2 separate regions of the Homo sapiens genome follow, and region 1 is linked to region 2. Evidence: fine-mapped expression QTL. A gene starts in region 2. The other region holds a variant in brackets. All regions are shown on one strand. Distances are between the middles of the regions. Region 1 holds the start of LINC00276 (long intergenic non-protein coding RNA 276). Region 2 holds the start of LRATD1 (LRAT domain containing 1).

What was found. PIP is the estimated chance that this variant, and not a neighbour inherited with it, causes the effect. A credible set is the group of variants that fine-mapping cannot tell apart.
Region 1: its variant is the best candidate, but not a certain one, in a credible set for the expression of LRATD1 in lung (TOPMed, PIP 0.89).

The regions. Positions count from the first base shown.
Region 1 is chr2:14,398,203-14,409,570 of GRCh38, reverse strand. It overlaps LINC00276 (long intergenic non-protein coding RNA 276), which reads left to right and starts at 8,613. Exons shown (of 4, transcript NR_103814.2): 1 at 8,613-8,728. RefSeq lists an enhancer at 7,211-7,768. The variant A/G (reference allele first, on the strand shown) is at 6,589.
Region 2 is chr2:14,627,598-14,638,965 of GRCh38, reverse strand. It overlaps LRATD1 (LRAT domain containing 1), which reads right to left and starts at 6,249. Exons shown (of 2, transcript NM_145175.4): 1 at 6,029-6,249; 2 at 1-5,022. The coding sequence starts at 4,986. The coding sequence ends at 4,108.

The DNA of each region.
Region 1 (11,368 bases), 230 kb after region 2:
CAAACTTTGGATTTCTCTTCTTCCTCAGGAACACCAATTATTCTTAGGTTTTGTCATTTAACATAATCCCAGACTTCTTAGAGGCTTTGTTCATATTTTCTTATTCTTTTTTCTTTGTCTTTGTTGGATTGGGTTAATTTGAAGACCTTGTCTTTGAGCTTTGAATTTCTTTCTTCTACTTGTTCAACTCTATTGTTGAGACTTTCCAGAGCATTTTGCACTTCTGTAAGTGTATCCAATATTTCCTGAAGATTTGGTTAGTTTTTCTTTATGCTATATATTTCCTTGAATATTTCTTTCATTGCTTCTTGTATAGTTTTTTAGGATTTCCTTGCATTGGGCTTTGCCTTTCTCTGATGCCTCCCTGATTAGCTTGGTAACTAACCTCCTGAATTATTTTTCAAATAAATCAGAGATTTCTTCTTAGTTTGGATCCACTGCTGGTGAACTAGTGTGATTTTTTGGGGGGTGTTAAAGAGCTTTGTTTTGTCATATTACCAGAGTTGATTTTCTGGTTCCCTGTCTTTTGGGTAGTCTCTGTCAGAGGGAAGGTCTAGGGCTGAAGGCTGTTGTTCAGGTTCTTTTGATCCATGGGGTGTTCCCTTGATGTAGTACTCTCCCCCTTTTCCTGAGGATGTGGCTTCCTGTGAGCCAATCTGCAGTGATTGTTATCTCTCTTCTTGGTCTAGCCACCCAGCAAATCTACTGGCTTCAAGCTGGTACTGGGGGCTGTCTGCACAGAGTCCTGTGATGTGAACCATCTATGGGTCTCTCAGCCGTGGATACCAGCACAGTATTTGGAGTGTCTCCCGGGTCCTGCAGAGCAGTCTGCTTTTTTCCAAGGGTGTGTGGGTCCTCTCGGGATTCCTAGTTATGTCATTTTAATCAACTTTCTTACAAAAAAAACCCTGTGTGCCTCAATTTTCTCATCTGTATGATAGGGATAAAATACATACCTATTGTAGAAGATAAAATATAATATTTTTTTCCTTTTTAGGTTCTCAGTTGAGATACTCTCTTGAAACCAAAAGTCAGATTAACAAAACAAAAACAAGCAGAAATACATTAATGTACACTGTACCAATTGTGTGGGAAAGGCCTCTACTCAAAAGTATTTCTCTCTCAAGGTGGTAGCTTAGAGGGTTTGCTTAAATAGTATTTTCACAAAGAGCCAGAAATCCTACTTAGTGGCAAGGCAAAGGAGAGAGCAATTTTGGTCTTTTAAAAGGTGGGAGAATGTGGAAAGATGGTAAAATCAGTTTCCAGATCCTGTTGGTGCCTGCTGGTGCCTTCTCTGGGACAACACACAAGTGCTGTTTTCAGTAAGGAAGGATTTATGTCCTGTGATCAGGCAAATAGAAGTGGAGGCAGAGTGTTTCCCTGAGTTTTCAGTGTCATTAGCAATCCTCAATATTTTGGGGTGAACATTTTGGTTTCTTTCACTATTCCATGAGGTTATTGGGTGAAAAGATAAATTAAAATATACAAAGTATTTAGAAAAGTACCTAGGAGTGTGACACATATTAAAACAAATTTAAACTCACCTATCAGAGTAACAATGAACATTTGAAATCCAAAAGTCAACATATAGCTCTTTGAAACCCAACCATAATTTTAACAGTGGTTGGGTTTAGACCCTGATTCTATTTTATTTTAATTAACTAATTAATTCATTATTTTAGATGGAGTCTGGCTCTGTCACCCAGGCTGGAGTGCGGTGGTACGATCTTAGCTCACTGCAACCCCCAACTTCTGGGCTCAAGCAATTCTTGTGTTTCAGCCTCCCGAGTAGCTGGGATTACAGGCATGCACCACCACACCCAGCTATTTTTTTGTATTTTTAGTAGAGAAAGGGTTTATCATGTTGGTCAGGCTGGTCTCGAGCTCCTGATCTCAGGTGATCTGCCCACCTCGGCCTCTCAAAGTGCTGGGATTACTGGCGTGAGCCACCGCACCAGGCTCCCTGATTCTATTTTAGACCATCATATATAGTATACAATTTTTTAAGAGGAAAGTTTTCTCTAAATTTCACACAGTAGACTAGACATCACGAGATAGGATAGAATATTATTCACTGGCTTAATGCGTACTTATTGAGCCAAGTCTTGTGAAAGACCTCAGTTATAAAGAAGCAGACCAAACAGAGTATTAGCTCCTGAGTTAATAGAGCTAAGGATACTGGAGGAAACAAAAATAAACAAGATAACTAACAAATAAGTAAATTATTACAAGATACAAAATAGACATGAATGTGTTTCCATGATGAAGAATAAAGTATTAGACTTCACTGGGTAGGTTACATTTGAGCTGAGGCCTGAGGGGTAGAAAGAAGCCAAAGCTTTGGGTTAAATGAAGAGCCTTCCAGGCAGATGGGACAAGTGTGACCAAGGCCCTAAAACAAAATGTCTTGGCGTGTTCTAGAAATTAGGAAGAAGTTAAATAATTGTTGCCTCCTTGATAATGGGTAACATGACTCAATATGATGCTAAAATGGAAAATAAATTGAGGACTTTTAAGTAGTGGAGCGATATTAATCCAATGTATATGCTTATGGAATCACTGGTGGCTAAATGGAAAGAGATTGAAGAAATGCAAAACTGAGAGCAGGGAGACCAGTTAGAGATGTCATGTAACAGAACAGGTGACAGTGGGTAGAAACAATGGTCTGACCAAGGGTGGTGGTGGCAGTGGAGATGAAGAAGAGTAGGCGGAATTCAGATTCCCCCTGCCCCCTGGCCACGCACACATGGATACACACGTTCCCATTTCCTTAGAAATACAACCACGAGTCCTTGATAATACATTTAATTTTGGAAGTGATGCAGAGGGTTAAGTAACTTAATGACTCCCGTATTTTTCACTTGCACAGCTGGGTGGATGGTGGCACCATTTATTGAGATTGTGAGGACATATGGTGAAGAAAGTTTTCAAAAGTTTTCAGAGGTGAAATTAAGAATTCATTATCAGATATGTTAAGTTTGAGATGCCAATGAGACAAAGACATGGAATCATCCAGGAAATAGTTGGGTAAACAAGATTGAATTCTAAGAAGAGGTCAGGAATAGATAAGCTTTTGGAAGGATTAGCACAGAGAGTATTGAAAGCTGTGTAAATAGATGAGATCCCCTTGTAATGTAGGCAAAGCTTGAGTGCTAAGAAACACTGGCATAAGCCAGGGAGATGCATTTGATAATGGGAGTAAGAGGGGACAATAGAGATTAGGATCACAGAAGCTTGGAGAAGAGAGTGTTTCAAGAAGTTTCAATGCACCAGGGACATTGAGTAAAATGAGTGCAGGTTTGGCAACACTAGGTGATTGAGACCCTGGAAAGAGTCATTTCCATACAGTCTGTAGGAGAGGAGAGTGTTTGTGCAGTGACAGAAAGGTGAGGAGGTGGATGCAGAGTGTGTACATAGCTCTTTCAAGATGTTTGACTGTGAAACAGGCTGAGAAATGGGCAGGACCTGGAGGACAATGTGGCTTCAGGGAAGTTTTGTGTTTTGTTGTTTTGTAAGATGGGTGAAACTAGATGGAGTTGACAAGATGTTAAGAATGATCCAGTGTAAAGAAGGAGCGCATGATGGTAAGAGTGAAAGGCCAGAGGAGCACAGTCTTTGGGAAGTCGAGAGAGGGAGACAAATACTAATGAGGAAGGTGAATACAACAGGCAGGTAGAATTGGTCATGGAAGACAAGAAACTCTCCTCTGATGACTGGTCCCTGATATAGCAAATTGTCCACTATGACTCTCTTTGTAGTAACATGCCCTGGGGTCAGGATGGAGTTTAAGCCTGGATAGAGATTGTTGACCTAAGATCCCTAGGTTGGAGATCAAGCCTCTAACTGGGCAGGTTCCCGATTATGTCATCAGCAGAGTTAAACCATTCATGCCTCTTCTAAGCTCCCAACAATCTCCATGCTCCTTTCTGTTTTATGGCTTTCTTCTGAAGAAATTAGCATGTCTGGGCATCTGCCTACAGAACTGTTCTGTCTGTCATTTGTTGAATACATGTTTATGGTAGAGTTTCATCTCACTGGGGGTTAGGTTCTAAAGATAGCAGATAAGAACATCACATATTTGATTATTGCTTCTGAAAATGCTCTGAATCATCCAAAGAATAAAGAAAGCATGATATGGTGAAACAACAGTACATACTACAGATCTTATAGAGCTTAGATGCCTGAGTTTGAATTCTGTGTCCACCATTTACAAGCTGTGTGATAGTGAGTGAAAACTCATGAACTCTAATTCCTTATCCCTAAAATGTGTTAAGTTAGAAGTTCAATCAAGTGTAGACTATTGGGGGTCCCTGAAATTCTTTCAATGGATCTAGGAGTCAACACAGACACATTTTGCCTTCTTCACTGTGTTTACTTTTGTACTGATTTTGCAAAAGGTTGGTGGCACTAGACTGCACTAGTAGTTGTTTCCTTCTTTACCATCACACACTTGCAGAAAAAAAAAGAGTTTAATGTAAGAATGTTTTTGATAAAAGAGTAAATATTAATAGTATTAGATCTCAACCTCTTAAGTACACTTTAAGAAAATTCTGTCTAACAAATGGGAAGTCCTTATAAAGCATTTCTGCTGCACAGTAGAGCACAACGGTTGTCTCTACAAAAGCTCTTGTGATTGTTTCCATTGTGAGCTAAACTAGCCATTTTTCTTTCATTAATATTACTTCTATATAAAAGAACAATGAACAGATGGAACAAAGCTCATCTGTACTTTGGTATTTGGCAGGCATAGTCTCAAAAGTGAATAAAGTGAGCTGATTACCTAAAAAAAAAAAATTGGTAATATTTGTTGCCAGTGATAAAACTCAAGCTTTGAAGTGAAAGAGTTTTGGAAAACTCATCTATGAGCTTGGCAGCTTCCCAATACTTAAGGATATATCAGATGAGATTGGTGGTGATATTAATGGCTATGATTTTGGGGGATGCTATATTTGATACTATGTTTCAACACTTGAAAGATCTTCATAATTTAATGAGCCCATACATTTCAAATTACCAATACATGGTGTTCAAAATCAAACATGAGTAATAGTTCTACTCTATAAGGTAGATCAAAGGACTTTAATGTAACAGAGCAGAAAACGATTATTGATATAGTTTCAGATTCCACACAACTACTAACCTTTAAGAAACTACAACTTGTCAGTTTTGGTATATAAAAAATATAAACCATTATGTGAGAAGCCTATTAAAAACTTCTCTTTCTAACCACATTCCTAGGTAAGGCCAGATTTTCTTCATATACTTCAACAAAAATGACACATCACAACAGATTGCATGCAGAAGCAGAAGTGGAAATTTAGCTGAATTCCAGTAACTAGACATTAAAGATTTGGAAAATGTAAAGCAATGCTACTTCTCTCAATAATTTTTCTATTTTGCAAAATGGTTTTTCAAAAATAAAATGTCATTTATGTTAAGATGTATATTATTATTTAAAATTAATACATATGAATTCTTTTATATTCTGCAGTTTTTAATTTCTAATATGTAAAATATTTATAGATATAATCCCCAGAAATTAAGCTCTGGTGGATTCTTAGTAATTGATAACGTAAAAGTTGTCAGAAGTTGTCAAAAGAACGTAAAAGATTCCAAACCATTGTACCTACTTTATTGCGCTGTTACGAGATTTAAAGTACTTAATGTGTGTTGAACCCTTAAAACAATGCGTGACATATAGTAAGTGATACACACATTTTTTTTGCACAAATACAGTATAGCATTATTTTTGGTGAGGTATAATGAAAAGGATGTACTCATCCCATTCCATCCCATTTCATTCCATCCTATCCCATCAATCATATCACATCTCCCTTCTCCTTCTTATTATGAAACATAAACTCACATTTTAGGATAATGAGTAAAAAATCTCTAATTCCTAAATTTCTTTTGCTTATTTTTTTCTCTCATTCTCACTTATGTCCACCTTGTAACCTCCTCCTTCTATATAGTTTAATTTGAATTCAGTAAAATATGTGTTATACAAACATATTTCAGTCATAGTGCTGGATGCTAGAAATAAAATGATTATTAAAACCCAGGGTTTTCCTGGAGGAAAAACCCAGTCTAGTGGGGAAAACAAAAAAATAAATAATTACAATATTGTCACGTAAAAACATAATATTTAGATGAAAAACCATTTGTTGATGTACAGAGGCAGATGCCTATAAAGAGAAAGAAGATCTCAAAAGAGGGAGCTGTCCTTTAAATTGTGAAGACCAAATGGGATTTGCCAATTGTGTAAGGGTTGAACAGTATTCCTGGGAATGGGTATGACATGGGGCAGCAAAGGCTTGAAGTCTCTGCTTTATATTTTATTTAGATTATAGGATGACTGCAGTGGGAGGGGGAATAAAAGGTGAGACTGAAAAAATATTTGGAGATTAGATTGTGTGTGCTGAAGTGCCTCATGCTGAACAGATACCTGGAGCCAAGGAAACACTTTAGGCAGGTGTCTGGTTAGTGATATAACTAAACACCTTCTTCCTCATCCTCAGGCTGGAGTTCCCATCCCTGTACTCCTGTGTCTATGACAGCAGGATGCTCTCAGGCTTTCATGTCCTCTTC[A/G]TAGCTGTCCCTTCATTATATGCTGGTACCAATATTAGGATCTTTGCTCTAGGCTGATCCTTTTTATTTATTTATTTATTTATTTATTTATTTATTTATTTGGAGATAGAGTCTTACTCTGTGACCCAGGCTGGAGTGCGTGGTGTGATCTTGGCTTACTGCAACCTCCACCTCCCACCCTCAAGCAATTCTTTTGCCTCAGCCTCCCAAGTAGCTGGGACTACAGGTGCATGCCACCAAGCTCTGCTATTTTTTTTTTTTTTTATTAGAGATGGGATTTTACCATGTTGGCCAGGCTCTGCTCTTGAACTCCTGACCTCAAGTGATCCTCCTGCCTCAGCTTCCCGAAGTGCTGGGATTACAGGCATGAGCCACCATGCCCAGCCTGAAGTTTTCTGAAGAGTTCTTAAAATCAGGATACTAGGCTCCTAGTAAAGGCAACAGCAGCGGAAAAAAAGGAATGAATTAGATACTATTTAGGAGGCACAACTGATAGAGAATTGTAACTGGCTATAGGTAGAGATGGAGTTTTTGGGCTGGATGACTCAGAACAAAATGATGATTACAAAAAATGAGGCAGGTAATTGATATAACTAAGTTTTTTTTAATTTGACTGCTTGTTAATCATTTTATCAGCCTTCTCAAAGGAAGTTTCTGCATCTGTTTTCCCTTCTTGCCTCCCTGAACCTAAAGAATAAAAACAATGGCAGCAACATTTTTCTGTGGAGCTGGCTTATAGGATAGGACTCGGAAGCAGCACAAGTCACTCCCCCTCACTCCCCTTTCTGGAGTAAACGTGGGCAGGTGGGGAGGGAAGCCTGCATTCTGATTTAGCCTCCCACCTTGGCGGACAATAACTCACCTCTTGGCACCAGAAGACAAGTCACAGCTGCTATTGTCTTGATAATTATGTTTACTCAAGCAGCGGAGTGGGAGTCCTGTGGTCAAGGGAGTGTGACTTGCCAGGTGCTCCCTGTCTAGGGCCTCTTTCCCCCTGAGGTGGATGAAGCTGTTCTCAGGAGCCCTTACAACCAGTTATAAATTACTTTCAGTGAGCTAAGGTCAAAGGCATGGGGAGAATAGTAAGTGACAACATTGAGGATTTATATGACCCCTTCCCTACTAGGAGACCAAACACTTCAAATATATGATCTCATTTGCCCTCCTCTGATCCCTGGAAAATGGAGGGCTTGAGGGAGGCAGTGGTTAGAGGCAGGTGTGAAAGCTCTGGTAAACAACCTTGAATGATCAGTATGGCAATATGGTTTTCTTTCTCTCTCATTTTTCTTTAGTACTTTTTTCTTTCTGGTTTTAGACAAATGAAGCAGACTAATTTTTCCAGGATTTTTTTAAACATTTTTACTTCCCTCCCTTAGTTTGATGGACTTCAGCAAGGTTGTGAGAATGAGTCTACATTTATTGGGGTTCTTTTGCTTTGATCCCTCAAGGAAATGACATGCTGATACCAAAATGCATATTAATAATCAGGATCAATAAATAAGTCAACTCTGATATGGAGAAATCCATAAGGTCATTTATTGAAAACATTAACTATTAAAGATAAATAATTACGGCTGGAATAAGTGCCTACGATTTATTTCCAAGCATTTGCATCTACCACTTGCTATGTGAAACTCTTCCATGAATGAGAAATCTGTTCTGTGCTTCTTTAAAGACACAGGGAGGTTTGAAGTGAATCCTGGAAGGTATCTCATATCTGACTAGTCCAAGGTCACACAGCATGCTACTGGGAGCTCTGACCTTATCACAGAGTCTCTGAAATTCCTATTCAGGTCTCTGCCTTATTTGAACATTGCATCTGTTGCTATTTGCCATACAAAGTAAAGTAACTTGAAAATGGTAGAAATAAACACCACAAAGGCAAAATAGAATGGTAAAAGGATTAGAGGAATGACACAGGAAAAGCGATTACAAGAATTTAATCTGTCACATGAAGCTTTGGGCAAAGAGGATAAAGGGAGGGTGACTGCTTACAAATTGCACAGGCTGTAAGGGGAGGATTTGGGGAGCCCAGACTTGCCAATGGGTAAGTGAGTCTAGTCAAGATGTAGGATTTCAGAAAACTCACTCAGAAGAGCAGGATGAAGATAAAGGAGGCATCATTCAGCAGCAATAACCAGTAAGTAATGGTAGAGATCTTTAGGGTGTGGGCAAGTGACCCTAAAGACTTGCAATGTTAGTTTAGCAATCTGTTTGCAATTTTCAAATGAAAAACACTTGGAACAAAGATAAGCTGCATGGAATAAACTGCCCTAGGGGAGATCATAAATTATCAGAGGTGCCTGGGGAAGTGGGAGAACATAGTTCTCCGTGCAGCTTTTAGCATCTTGCCGATGGAGGTCAGAGTGAAGGTACTGTGGTCAGAGTGAAGGCCTTGGCAGGTAGGACCTTTCACATTCCCAGAGCTACATTAATAGAGCTCCCTGGTCTCTGAACGGTGGGGAGCTATTTTGTAAGCCAATCAGGAACAATTCCACATTCAAGTAAGAGTATACCATCAAACAATTGCTCGGAATCCTAGCAGTTTCAGAGACAGTCTTGACATAACAGGCCGATGCATTTTATTTAATAAACCTAATCTATTCTAAATTTTCATTATGTTATTAAGTCACAACTTAATACCAAATGTGGCGATAATACACCTAGCTATAGATACTTATGTGACTAAGAAACTTCCTCCTCAGCAGATCTAAAGCAGAGGTCTGAAATGAACCCAATTCTGCTCTTTATTTAAGAGTAAACTAATAGTTGTAAAAAGTCATTAGGAAAGAACCTGGAACATCATCTGGGCCAGGCTTGTGAGGATACATATGAGGATATGCATGGGGCCCAGAGGGATTCTTTCCTTACACCAGCACCCACAGCAAAGAGGCAAAACTGCGTTTGAGTTGGGTAGCACACATCTCATCAAATCACAGTGCTTTTTTCTTCTTCTCTTTTCTCAAGCATGATCCTTCATTGTTTGGCACAGCCAGGGGAATTATTAACTAAAAAGATGTTATTTTAGTTAAAATAGTTTAGTTTTGGTTTTGGGAATGATTGCTGTTTTAGCATTTATTAGTGCTTAGTGAAATTTGTAACTTTTAGTTTGAAATTAAAACTGCCCAATTAGGCCAGGTGTGGTGGCTCACACCTGTAATCCCAGCACTTTGGGAGGCTGAGGTGGGCAGATTGCTTGAGCTCAGGAGTTTGAGATCAGCCTGGGAAACATGGAAAAATCTCTTCTCTACAGAAAACACAAAAAATTTGCCAGGTATGGTGCAGTGTACCTGTAGTCCTAGCTACCTGGGAGGCTGAAGTGGGAGGATCACCTGATTCTGGTGGTCGAGGCTGCAGGGAGCTGTGATGGTGCTACTGCACTCCAGCCTGGATGACAGAGTGAGACTCTGTCTCAAAAACAAAACAAAACAAACAACAAACCTGCCCAGTTATATCTACTGCATGATCAATGTAATTGTTCTGTAGTATTATGATTCCTGTAGCAATCTGTAGTTCTACTTTGTAGCTGGATGCAAAAGATAGAGCATAAATACCTCTTCCCTGAATGAGTTGCATTGATTTGAGAGCTCTGTTGAATAGTAGTCCTTTTAGAAATAGCAAGGAGAATCAAACTGAACTGTGTACAAAAAGTAAATGTAACATGACCCAATTTTTTGAAATTATGTAAAACCTTGATTTTTAAAAATGCACCTGTGATTTAAAAACAATGTGTCTAAAACAAATCTGGTGGACAAATTACCTCTGAAACATAATGAAGTTTAAACTAGTAGCAACCTTTAAAGAAATGAATTAAACTCTAACTTGGTGCAGTATAATTTCAGCAGAAATTAAGCTATAAATACCAAAATGTTTTCTAAAACAAACTGAACCAATTTGATGATGGGAAGTGAGAGGAGTTTAGAACCTGGTTTTATAAAAAGAAATTACAAGAAGCAAAACAATTACCAAATAAGTTTGTAGCCTGCAGTAATCACAGTTAGATTTTGGGTGGAAACATCACCTCTGAAATATAAAAAAGTTGCAGATATATTAAAAAAAAGCAGAACAATTTGAAGACAATGCATTCCTCAATGAGTCACATGTAAAAAGCACCAACAGAGAGGTGCATGCTTGCAAATGTTCTTTTTCAATATGCAGTGTTTAAGCTCATGACATTTATTTTTAGGGATGGTCCAAACAGAGCAGGGGTTGGCCTTGTTCTTCTCTAATTTTGTAAGAGGCATTTCTTGCTGGTGAACTCATTTTAGGCAACAGATAGTTGATGACCCTACTGTATCTCTTTTTCAGTATGTCAGTGATTCTTTTTCAGTATGTCCATGATTCAGTATGTCCATGATTCTTTTTTACACTCCAAGGTCAACTAAAACATAGTGTAGATGGAAACCAGGCTTTGAAATAAATTCTACTCAGTGTATTACACAACATAAACACTTGATATCCCTTCAATGCAAAAGAGCACCTCTAATTTATACCATTAAATCCTCTAAATTAGGATTTTAGTGAAACCTTTAGTTGGGTTTAATTGGTGAGTCTTTTTCTGTTCTGGTTTTGATTTTCTTCTGTTGTCATTTGGACCTTGTGGTTGGCTGATCTATTTCTGTGTCCTAATAAGCCTCCTTTGTACTGCTCATGATATTAATATATACTGTAAAATATTTTGTCTCTACAACTGCAAAGTTTCAAGCTTTAGAGTTTTCCTTAACTCTAATGAGTTTTCCTCTCAGGTTTATTGCTCAGGTGAGTTGACTTTTATCACCCT
Region 2 (11,368 bases):
ATATATGTATATTATACCAATAGCTAGTAATTTCAAAAAAAACATTGACTTGAGTGTTAGATAACCATTCTCTAAATTCAGTTTTTGATGTTTCAAGAAACCCAAAAGCCTGTCTTTTCACCTACAGACCCTTTGTGCACGTGGCAAATCACCTCTGAAAGGCAAAAACTAACTGGATTCTCTTCATTTGTTCAAAAAAGAGAAGAAAGCTTTAAAGATATGCCTATAAATAAAAGAAAATTAGGTTGCTATATTATGATTGTGCAATAAGTATTAATTTCATTGAAGTTTGACCCTGTTCCATGTATTAGATGACTAAGACATTTAACTCTTAGGGATGTTGAAAGCGCACCACAAAACATAAGTAATCAATAAAGTAATGTTTGAAGACTTTTAGTATATACTGCTTATTCAGGTAATTAATTATTTTGTAAATACTAATAGCATATTTTTCCAAGAAAAATAAAAAAGCCATGTTCTAACAAAAGTGTTCACCACAGAAAAATTAAACATAGGGGAAGGTAAACATTAAAGTTTCAAAAAAACAGGTAAATCATACAGCTGCTTCTGTGCTTGATGTTCTAATCTGGCACAAGTGTTTCGTAACTATAATATACGTTATTATTTTTAAAAAATACTGTCATGACAACAGCTTACATTATTAAATATTGAGGAACACTTTATATCAATTTAACTCATACTTAAAAATGTAACATACGTAAATTCTATAGTTTTTTTTTTTTTTTTTTTTTGGAATGTACTTTGAGAATAACAGCATTTCAGGACTGGTTTTGTTTAAAGTATACCCAGCCCCCCTCCTTATTTTATTTGATTTTTGGTTTAAATAAAAATGTAGCAAAGCACTCTTTGAAGTAAAAGTACCTGTCTTTTCTTTTTTCTTTTTTTAAATCATAGTTTGTTTTACCTGAAAGTTGAGAAAGAATGCAGTATAAATATAGCTTTTCTCTACACGGGAGCAGGGGGAACAGAACCAATCCCCAGCTTAGCCACACCCAACATCATGGAAATTACTGTGAACCTGTTGTCTCTTGAGGACAACTAAAACCAAAACGAAATCCCTAACATTATTAAAATGTTAGGAAACTTTTCAGGTAATTGCTGTAACTCTGGTAAAATACAGAAAGATTACATTCACTCATAATAAAAATCAAGTGTGCCCACGCCATCTGCAAAGGGAACTTGCACCATCTTGGTTTCACTCGCATTGTTAACAGTGCCCTAAAAGTATACACCTTTTTCAGGATAAAACCATTAGGTAATATCTTGATCATATCCTCTGCATGATGAACTATCACTCAAATTATTCTGTCATGGGTTACCTTACTAACACTGACAAAGAGATAATAAATGATAATTTTAACAGGGATAGGAGAAACCTTGCAAACCTTTCAAGTTTCTTTCATAACTATTGTTTTATTATTGCATATTTTTAGAGGTATTATCATCAACCTGATCCTTTATAGGCCAATATAGTAACAAATGCTAATTTAACTGCCCAGCTCATTTTTATTGTCAGTCTAGCCTCAGCAAGTATAAAACTGACAAGACATTCCTCTATGAGAGTGACCCTCTTAGTGAGAGAGAAATCTATGTACCATCAGAGGAAATAAATCTTAGTATTCGGTGTGATAGAGACTAATTCATTTCTTTTGATGAAGTCCCACTCTTTGAGTGACTTTGAAGGGGGAGACAAAATGTCAAGAAGGAGTCCTGCAGGAACAAGTGCTTAAGATGGTGTTTAATACAGCAGGGAGCCAAGATACAGTAGTAGGACACAGTAAAGAATGTGGAGTGTGTAGATACAATAAAGAATTCATTTTATGATCTGCCACCTGTTACTTGAAAGAGGAGTAAGTTAGGGAAATAAATGACTCAGTTCTTCATACATGCAAAGGTAAGTTAGTTATTACAAAAGTTTTTGCTGTTGTTTGTGCTGAAAGAAAAGCATATGCATTTAAACATTTTTTAAAAAATAAATCACTCAATAGGCTTAAGAAAAATACTTTAGTTCATAGTTCATTGATCTGACGTTTTGATTTAAGATCAGGGGATGAATCCAGGATGAAAACCAAAGAAAAAAAAAGAAAAAGAAAGAAAAATATAGAAGTGAATCATTTACCATGAAAAAGGCATTTCCAGCCTCAGCTAACCTCAACTAGTTTTTATTGCATTATTTTTGAAATGCCAAGAAACTGGCTTTGGCCATAATACTTGCTGTCCAACAAAATCACAGCTGTTAATATGCAATTGCTTGCAACAATTAGCTAAACAGCATTATTTGACAAATTCCCTTGAAAGAGACATAGATGCTATTTAAGTGTCTAGCACACTGAATCAAGTAACTATCAGTTAGGCTGGGGCCGCAGCTGGAGGGAGGAGAGAAGTTTACAAATCCTTGTCCACAGAAGGTGTTTCACACCCAGCCTTAAGTTTTTGAAAAACACACATTTGTCCTGATCCTACAAGTTCATCATCCCTGTTTTCAGGAAGAACTGAACTGTGGAACTGGCCAAAGAGGAGGGGGAAAAAGCCACCAACTCTAGATTCATTTTTAAGGAGATCAGGAGGAGAGGAAGAAAAATAGAAACGCGTATGTGAAATGGTAATGATATACAACATGGAGAAAAAAATAAACATCGTGGAACCTGCTAGCAATTTCCACCAATTTCCACCAAAGCAGTGAACCCCTTAACTGACAGAAATTCAGTACAATATACACATTAATTAACAACTCCACCATTACTAGGGCTGCTGTTGAAAGCCAAAAAATTAACTACAATATTGAAAAACAGAATGCTTACAATATCTGAGAAAAATAGAGTGAAAAGGCAATGTTAGCTAAGCTCTTAGCTACATCCACTCTTAATGGCCCCCAGTATTTAAACTATCATGGATTAAAGCCATGAAAATAAAAATTTCAATTTGAAATTTTATTAGCCTGTTGCTAAAATGGTCAATAAAAACATCAACACGATAGGCTTTGTTGACATAGTTGGAAAACTGCTCTCTCATTTTTAAAACTTTATTTCCACTTCCCCAGCTTTGAAGATTTCTATGTTAGGAAAAGCCAAACTAAATATACTGGCTATGGTGTTGTAACAATGCTGGTTTCTGGAATGGTGCCATGTCCTCCCCCTCCCTCTCCTCCAACTCCTTTAAAAATATGACTATTTTTGAAATGCAGCCCGAGGAGGGAGCAATCAAGGGTTCAGAACAATAAGCGCCCTTCACACATTCAAGTTCCCAGACACCAGGTGAACGAGCGAGCTCCTTGTCGGGGGCGGGGCCGGCTGTCCTCACCGAATTCGCAGCGCCATCTTCCTCCCGGGACCGGGCCGGCTTCCCTTCTGCCAGCGAGGGAGACTCGCAGGCAAAGGCGGGTGGGGGTGGCGTTCGCTTCCCACGGTGGAAAGAACCGGAGGCAAACACTGTCTGGCTTAGCCCGCAGCCTGGAACACAATGTCAGGAGACCTGGGGCTGGAGAGCTGGAAAAGTCCCGGGCAGCCTCAGGATAACCCGGAATCCCGAAGTGCTGTCTTGGGGAATTATTCCCAAGTGCACAAGGGACAGGCTCGATTTCTTGGAAATCCTGCGATCTGGGGACGCATCCACAGAGGAGCTGAACTGTGCCCTGTAGAGACCAGTTCTCGCCTCCGACCGGTCTGTGTGCGCACGCTCGGGGCGGTGATGGTCCCTTTTGAGAAGAGGGTTGTTTTCGAGTCGGGCCACAGTCACTGGCCATGGACTCGCGGGGAAGGCCATGTCCTTTCTCCCCTCAGCCCCTTCCCCGTTCCCGGTTTACATCTCAAGGGGAAAGCGCACGCGGGGTCTCCCAGCACCGTCACCACCGCTGTGGCTGTCAGCCAGGCGCTCGCAGCGGCGCCCTTTCGGCCCTGGGGCAGTTCCTGAGACTTCCTGCCGCTGGCTTGGGGATGCGGGGGTGCAGCCCGGGCCCGGGCCACCGGCGGCGGACGCGCGTGGCGGGGCGGGGCAGAGGTTGAGAACCGCTGACTGCGAAGTCCGGGTGCGGGGAAGGGAAGGGAGCGAGGTGCGGGGGAGGCAGAGGGGCCGGCAGCCCCTAGGCGGCTACTCCTTGTCGTCCACGAGGTCGGCGAGCTCCTGGAGCACTCGCAGGCGGCCGCTGGCGTCGATACGGCGCTTCTCGCGGATGAGGTCTTCCAGGCTGTGAAACCTGGCGGTGTGGACCTTGTTCTCTCCCAGGTGCACCTTGAGATAGTACTGCTGCTGCGGGGGCTGCGTGCCTGCCGGCACCTCCCCTCCCGCCTTGAACTCCCGCTTGCCAAAGCGGCACCAGGCGGCGAAGCTCTCCGAGTTCGTCCAGCAGATCTCCTCGCTCTTGAGGCCCAGGTGGCCGCAGGCGTTCTGCACCACCAGCTCGGCCACCAGCGGGCGGTAGCGGTACCAGCTATTCACCACCCGGCCCACGTTGGCCGCGCCCGCCTCATACAGGCTGTCCTGGCGGATCTCGCCTTGGTGCAGGTGGATGATCTGCCCGCCGCCCACGTAGACGGCCCAGTGCGGGGCGGGCGCGGGCGGCTCCGGCGCGGGCTGCAGCCACAGCAGCTCCAGCAGGTCGCCGGGTTCGCAGAGCGCTGGCAGCGCGGTGACCGCGTAGACGCTTAGGTCGGCGCCCTGAGGGCCACCGCTCACTTTGGAAAAGATGCATTCCTGGCCCCGAAAGGCGGAAAACTGAGTCTCGTTGAGGACCAGCTGGTGCAGCAGGTGGTGGTGGTGGCGGCTGGGGCTCTCCGGGCAGGGGGTGCAACCCGGGGGGGCCTTCACGCCAAACTTGTCGGGCTGCCCGCGTTCGTCCAGGTCTTCCTCATCATCCGAGAAGAAGTAGGCAACCCCGACCCGCAGTTCGTCCTTTTCAATCCCCGACGGGTCCCCTGTGGGCAACTCGCTGTAGTTGAGGTGGGTGATGCGGTCCAGTTGGTTGCCCATCAATGAGGTGGCGAGGCGAGGGCCAGGAGCGGGGATCTGCGGAGGCACAGAGAGGCAGAGACACCGTCAGAGTCCGGGCTGCCCCTTTCGGTGTCCCTCCCCAAGACGTGCAGTGCCCCTGGGACCTGCCGGCTAGCTTACGTGCCCTCACCGGAGTCACCCTTTCCAGCCGAGTCCTCCGTGCCTCCCCAGGGGTACGAGGGGCGGAGAAGCCGCCACAGGTCAGGCGAGAGCAGACGCCACCACACAGCCTCCGACCCCTTCCGGGAACTCGGTCCAACTCCCAGAAGAAAACACCCAGGCTGGCTGGAGAGCTTGCGGGGTCCCGGTGGGGAGGAGAGTGCTGGCTGTGGCAGTGTGGGAGACGGACACCCAGGAAGGACCGAGGGGTGGGCTGAAAGGGAGAAGGGAGCCTAAGGCCAGTGAGCTGGGAGCAAGCTCCCATTTCTGTCCCCACCCTCTCCAGCCCACCTCCCAGTTTTGCACTAGGTTGCCTTCCTCCCCTTACAGCGGCTCGCACAATGACAATCAGACACATTCTCAGGCATTCACTTGACACCAGCAACATTTTGGACACTTGGGAGTCCAGACACTGGCAGCCTGGTATACTGGTGTATGTCACATACACCCACAATGACAAACCTTCGCGACGACACACTGGCACACTTAGACCCCACACATTCGTACACAATTTCAGCTCCACGCTTGCACGCTCGCCGTTGCACGTACGCCCAAGCACCCGGGCACACCTGCCCTCACAGGCAGGTGCACTCTGCCCCTTACTTCTCTTGCCTTGTCCCCATCAGGGCCAATGGGACTGCGCCAGGGCGAGGCTGCTCTGTCTAAAATAACCTAACAAAGAGGCAGGGGAAGGATGGAGAAAGCCAGTGCAGTGTATGTGTGTGGGTGTGGGTGGGAGCGTGTGTGTGTAGAGAGGTTCACTTTTAGCCCAAAGACCCCTCTCCCTCCTACCCAGCACAGGATCCAAACAATCGGATGAAGAAAAACCGTTTCCAAGGCAAAGAAAGCCGCTTCTCCCTACCCGTGATTTCCCTGCTCCCGAAACCCCAAACTCCTTTAAAGTCTCCTGGTCCCCATGGGTGCTGAGGAAGCGGCGGTGGCGAGTGGGTCCTGGGCTGCGCGTGGGGCTGCGGCTCCGCTCTACCCCGAGCCGAATCGTGCGGTGCGGCGCCCGTGCGCCTCCAGGTCTGCGCTGGCCGGGGCGCCTGCTCCCACTGGACAGTCCCGGCTCGGCTCTGCTTTCCCACCGCCGCGCCGACGACTCTAAGTAGCCGGAGCAGCCGGTCCCAGGGCCCGCCCCAGGACGCGCTCATTGGTTGGGGCGGGTGCTCGAGCTGTGTCAATCTTCGCCGGCGGGGGAGGGGAGCAGAGGCGGGCCTCCTGTGCGCTTTGCTCTGCTCCGCTCCGCCCCGCCCCGTACCCCGCACACCCGACCGCGCGCCGCCCCGGGGAGCGGAGGTGTGCGCACCCGCGGGGGGCGCGGCGCTTTCTGCCAGGTGCCGATGCCCGCTTGCGCCCGCGCCCCCCAGCTCATCCGAGCTGATTGTGACTGAGAACACAGCCCGCCCGCGTTCCGTGTTCCAGGAAGACAGACTCCAGCGGGGAAGCTGAGTCTGGGTATGGAGAAGAAACCCCAGGGCACCCCAGTATGGCCCAGGCACTGCGAGCGGCCCGGGGCAGGCAGCGACATTGCCCGAGGCGGGCGTCTGGGCCCTGCTGGGATCCCCCAGAGCCTTGGTTCCCGATGGCCCCTAGGCTGGTCCTTGGATCGAAGACCCTTTTCGTTCCCCAGACGTCTTTGAAATTGCTCCTGCGACGTTTGGCTCCTCTTCTTTGACTGGAGTGAGGCTGCTGACCCAGAGCTGATGCCCGATTTAAAAGGAGCTTGGTGTCAAATGCCACCCAAAAGCCTGAGCTTTGGCCGGTGCATTCCCTGGCTGTGCCTATGATATTGGCCTCCAATTTTCTGAATATAGGAGGAGTACCTCACAACTCATGTATGTGAGTTCATACATGCAAGCAGAGAGTAGGATGTAAAAGTGTTTTCCAAGCCTCAGAATTGGGATTGCTAAGCAAGTTTTGTTTGGTTTTGTGGGAAAGGAGGCTCCAGCAGTAGTTAATGATTACATTTCTGGATGGAAAGTTAATGAATGAATGTGTTCTGAATATTGGATGCTGAAAAAATGAACTTCATATATACAACATTCCAGACCAATAGTTTCAAAAGTTCCTAACATTAAGCCTCAAAGAGTTCTTAGACATCTGGTTCTGGCCCCAATGCTACTCATCTTTAAGCCTGGGCTCCAGCAGCTTTTCTATGAAGCCTCTTTTCTTTCCCAATGAGGAATTTGATACTTCCTATTTGAACCCCCCACCTCTTCCCTACAAAGCGAATTCCTTGAGAATAGACTTTGCATTCTGCACAACCTTGTATTCTGGGCCTCTTTCCCAATGCTAGTCATGCAGTGTGTTCCATCAGTAATAGTAAAAATGAAAACAGCCTGTATTGACCACTTATACGTGGTCAGACACTTAAGAGTAAATTAAGTAGACAATTTAATCATTATTCCTCTGTAGGGTACTCACTAATATCCGAATTGTAACAAACAGGGAAACAAAAGCTCCAATACTAGTACCAGCAATCCATCCAAGCCTACGGGATACCAGATCCAGTCTTTCACTAAGTTATAGTGTTTATTGAATAAAATCTTGTTTCATAAAATGAGAAAACTGGTGTTTCAGAGAAGTTAGATGATTGGCTCAAGGTTACATGGAGACTGATCCATATTACAACCCCCTTTTTCTTTGCTAGACTTTTCTGCTTGAATATCTTCAAACCGCCAAGCCTCCAGTTTATGTTTGCTTTCTGAAGGTCTCTGTACACCCCCACAGCCTCCAAATGCAGTGATTTATCAAATTAGATGCTAAAATATTGCTGGAAAAAATGGTTTTAAATGACCATCGGTATACAATTGATGTACCTAAATCTTTTTGGAAATTTGGCTATTGTCCATGTGCATGCAAGTTATCAGAAAACAAGTTGCCATTCGTGGAACTGACCACAGGTTGAGATGGCCTTTTTTATACTTGCCATAAGTAATAAACAACTCATTTTGGCCCTGAAGTCAAGAGAATTGAACAAGTAGCTTTAGAGATAAGGAGTGAGTTATTGGTCTTGTTATAAACTGGACTTCAGGGCTGTCTGGGATGAGGGTATCTGAAGAGTTCATTGTTGATGTCTGAGAAGAACTCTTTGAAAGCAACTCAGCGTTTGAATAACTTAAAAAATATCCTCCCTCCATCCCCAAGATCAAGCCTTGTGCACAGACATTTACAACTCATTTGTTGTGTTCTGCCCTACGTGTTCTATTTCATTCTGCTCCAGACTACAGAGTAAGCAGGTCGTTCCTCTTTGTTTAGTATTCCAATACTATAAAGCATAATTAAGATAAAATGTTGTCAGTTATTGGAGATATAGTGCCTAAAGTTTAAAATTTTTGGCCTCTCCGTTTCCTCTCATTCCCCCTGCTAGGCTAAACGGCTAACTGCTTTTGTAATCACATGGGAGAAAAAATACCCTGGAGCCCCCTTGAAACATAAGGCAGGGAACACATTGACTGTGAGGCTTGAAATAAAGGGAGCTAAAAGTAAACTAAGGAAAATACATCTACACTTTGTCTTCTTTTGGCACTTACCAGATAATAAAGTAAGACAATCAAATGAAGGATGCTGATTGTAGAAAATGTTTTATGTTCATCACAAAATATTGTTTTCAAATTGTTTTGACTTTTATTTTTTACTCCATCCTGCCTGCTTTTACAATGAGAAAATACAGTGCTGTCCAAAGTAGAATATAGTTGTCCAAAACACAAACTCTGAAAGCCAACTAATTTAAACTCTTTTTCAACATTTATTGCTGGGTAACCTCGAGTCCGTTATTTAAACTTTGTGGGCATCAGGAAACTTCCTTATCTGTAAAAAAGAGATAATAATAGTGGTTACCTCACTGAATTGTTGTGAGTTCATACATGTAAGCATAGTGTCTGACGCACAGTGAGTTTTCAATCAAGGCTATCTTATTATTATTCTTGGTGGAAGAGAGAGGTCTCATACCCTACTTGTTTAGGACAGCTGTGCAGTTCTCTTTCTCCTTTGCCCCAGGCTAAAGGTAGCAATAGATAGTGTCCAAGGCTTTCCCTGATTGGGGTGTAGGACTGCTTCTGTGTTAAGGTGGTGAGATCCCTGCCTATCCTTCAAATACTCTGAGACCTAAAGCTCTCTATAGATTTCAGCATGTGAGCCCCTGGGCTGATCATGTGGTAGCAGGGAGTGGGGTGGGGGTTCCCTGAAGGATTTTTAATTGTTTTAAATGAACATTTCCGGTGTGAGGAATTTGTGTGGGGAAAAAAGTTACAGGGGAGTGATTAGGAGTCAATCAAATGTATGTGATCTTTTCTGCTGGTGCCATCTGATGTATCCTCTCTCTCTCTTTTTTTTTTTTTGTTTTTGGTTGCTTCTTTGGCACTATTTGAAAAGCTTTACTCCAAATTTTACTGAACAGGTCCTTGGCTCAAACTGTCATCCTTTAAAATTGGCCTTGGAGCTTGGAGTAAGGGTTCAGGAAAATTATATGCCCCACTTTATCCTTTAATGAAATGAACTGTTCCATCTCCTGTCCTTCACTGCCTTAGGCAGTTAACATACTCACCCTGGTCTGAGCTAAAGAATACTCTGTGTCCATCTGGATTAGAGATGGTTATATGGCTTCACCAATCCCATTTCCCTTCCTTCTGGGCACCCAGCTAAATGACAAGTCCCAGCATGCCTGCAGTCATTTGCCCCATGCCCTGTGACTGAGTTCTGGCAAATGGAATGTGGGTGGAAGTAGAATAAGCCACTCCCAGGTGCCGCTCCTGAAAGCTCCTGAAACTGAAACTATTATTAACACAATCTTCCAGAGCTTTCTTTTGCCAATTTGGCCATTTGTAGAGGATTCATGGTAGGACTCCTAGGATCTAAGAGATGGAGGAGCCACTAGATGGAAGAAGGCCGGAGCTCCTGAATGACTGTGTAGAGCTGATAATTTCCCCTCCCAAGAAAACTGCATTGGACTGTGAAGAAATAAATCTTCTTGGGTTAAGCCACTCCAAAATTGTGTGGTTATTTATTATAGCAGTTAGCCTGTACTGACTGATATACTGTCCTTCATTTTAGACCTATCTCAGAACAATAAAAATCTCCCCCACTTCCCCCGTCCCCACACACACCTCCTACCTCCTTCTCTCTTTGTATCTGTTCTCACTGCCAAGGCTAACTTGCCTGAAATCCCTGCAGCATTTCAGCAGGTTCACATCACCTAGAATGTAAAGAAATCACTAATGAACACTTCTCTCCCCTCTAGGTACTACCCCATATCTCCCTACTATTTGTTCTAGAAATTTTCACAGCTTCCATGTGACTAACTTACCCAGCTCTCTGAACATCTTACCTGCTTTCTACTTTTGTAGACCACAACAATGGCGTGGGAAACCCCTCCCAGTAAACTTCTTGCAGCTGGTATCCTGCTTCCCTTAACCCGCATGCATGCATTGACACTCTGGCTATCAATTTCCTCTTCAGTGCCCATTTCCAAGTTTGGCTTCCACATTTCCATGTTCTCTAATTTCCTTCCCATAACTGAGTGTTCATATTAAAGTGTCTTTTGTGGCTTCTTATCAGCGAACCATTAAAGACTCATGAATGCTCCCTGGGTAAAACCTTTAGCACTAATTGGTTTAATATTTTATTTTTTTGTGGATTATACAAAGATATCTTCACCTAGCATTCATTTTTCTCTGTGTTCTCTCCCAATTTTAGGATAGTTCATGCCTTTTGTTTGGGCCCACTTCCCCATATGAGTGATGGTTGAACTTTCCTGGGTAGGCATGGGTCACTATTACAGACACACTGCTTACTCTTCTTTTTCTCTGGAATGTCTTTCCCTGCCTGTCTGATCTAACCTCCACTCAAAATTAATAACCCAGGTTATCAAGCGTCAGCCCCTCCAATATATCTGTCCCCTCAGCCCACTCTAATTGAGACCCTCCTTTATGCTTCCATAGCACCATCTGTATATTGGACACAAGATATGTCAGAAATTTGTCAAAACACTTATCAAATTGAGCTGGCATCATGGGTTGACGTTCCTCTTTTTCCTTATTAATAGACTAAAGAATATTTGAAGAAAAGTCCAAAATCGAATTCAAGTCCATATTCTCTTTGCCAAGTATAGGGTTTGGTGCAATGTGCACTCAATAAATACACCTTGCCTGACTCAAGGCGCACGTGAATAATGGTCTCTGTTTTAGTTAGTGAGGTGTCG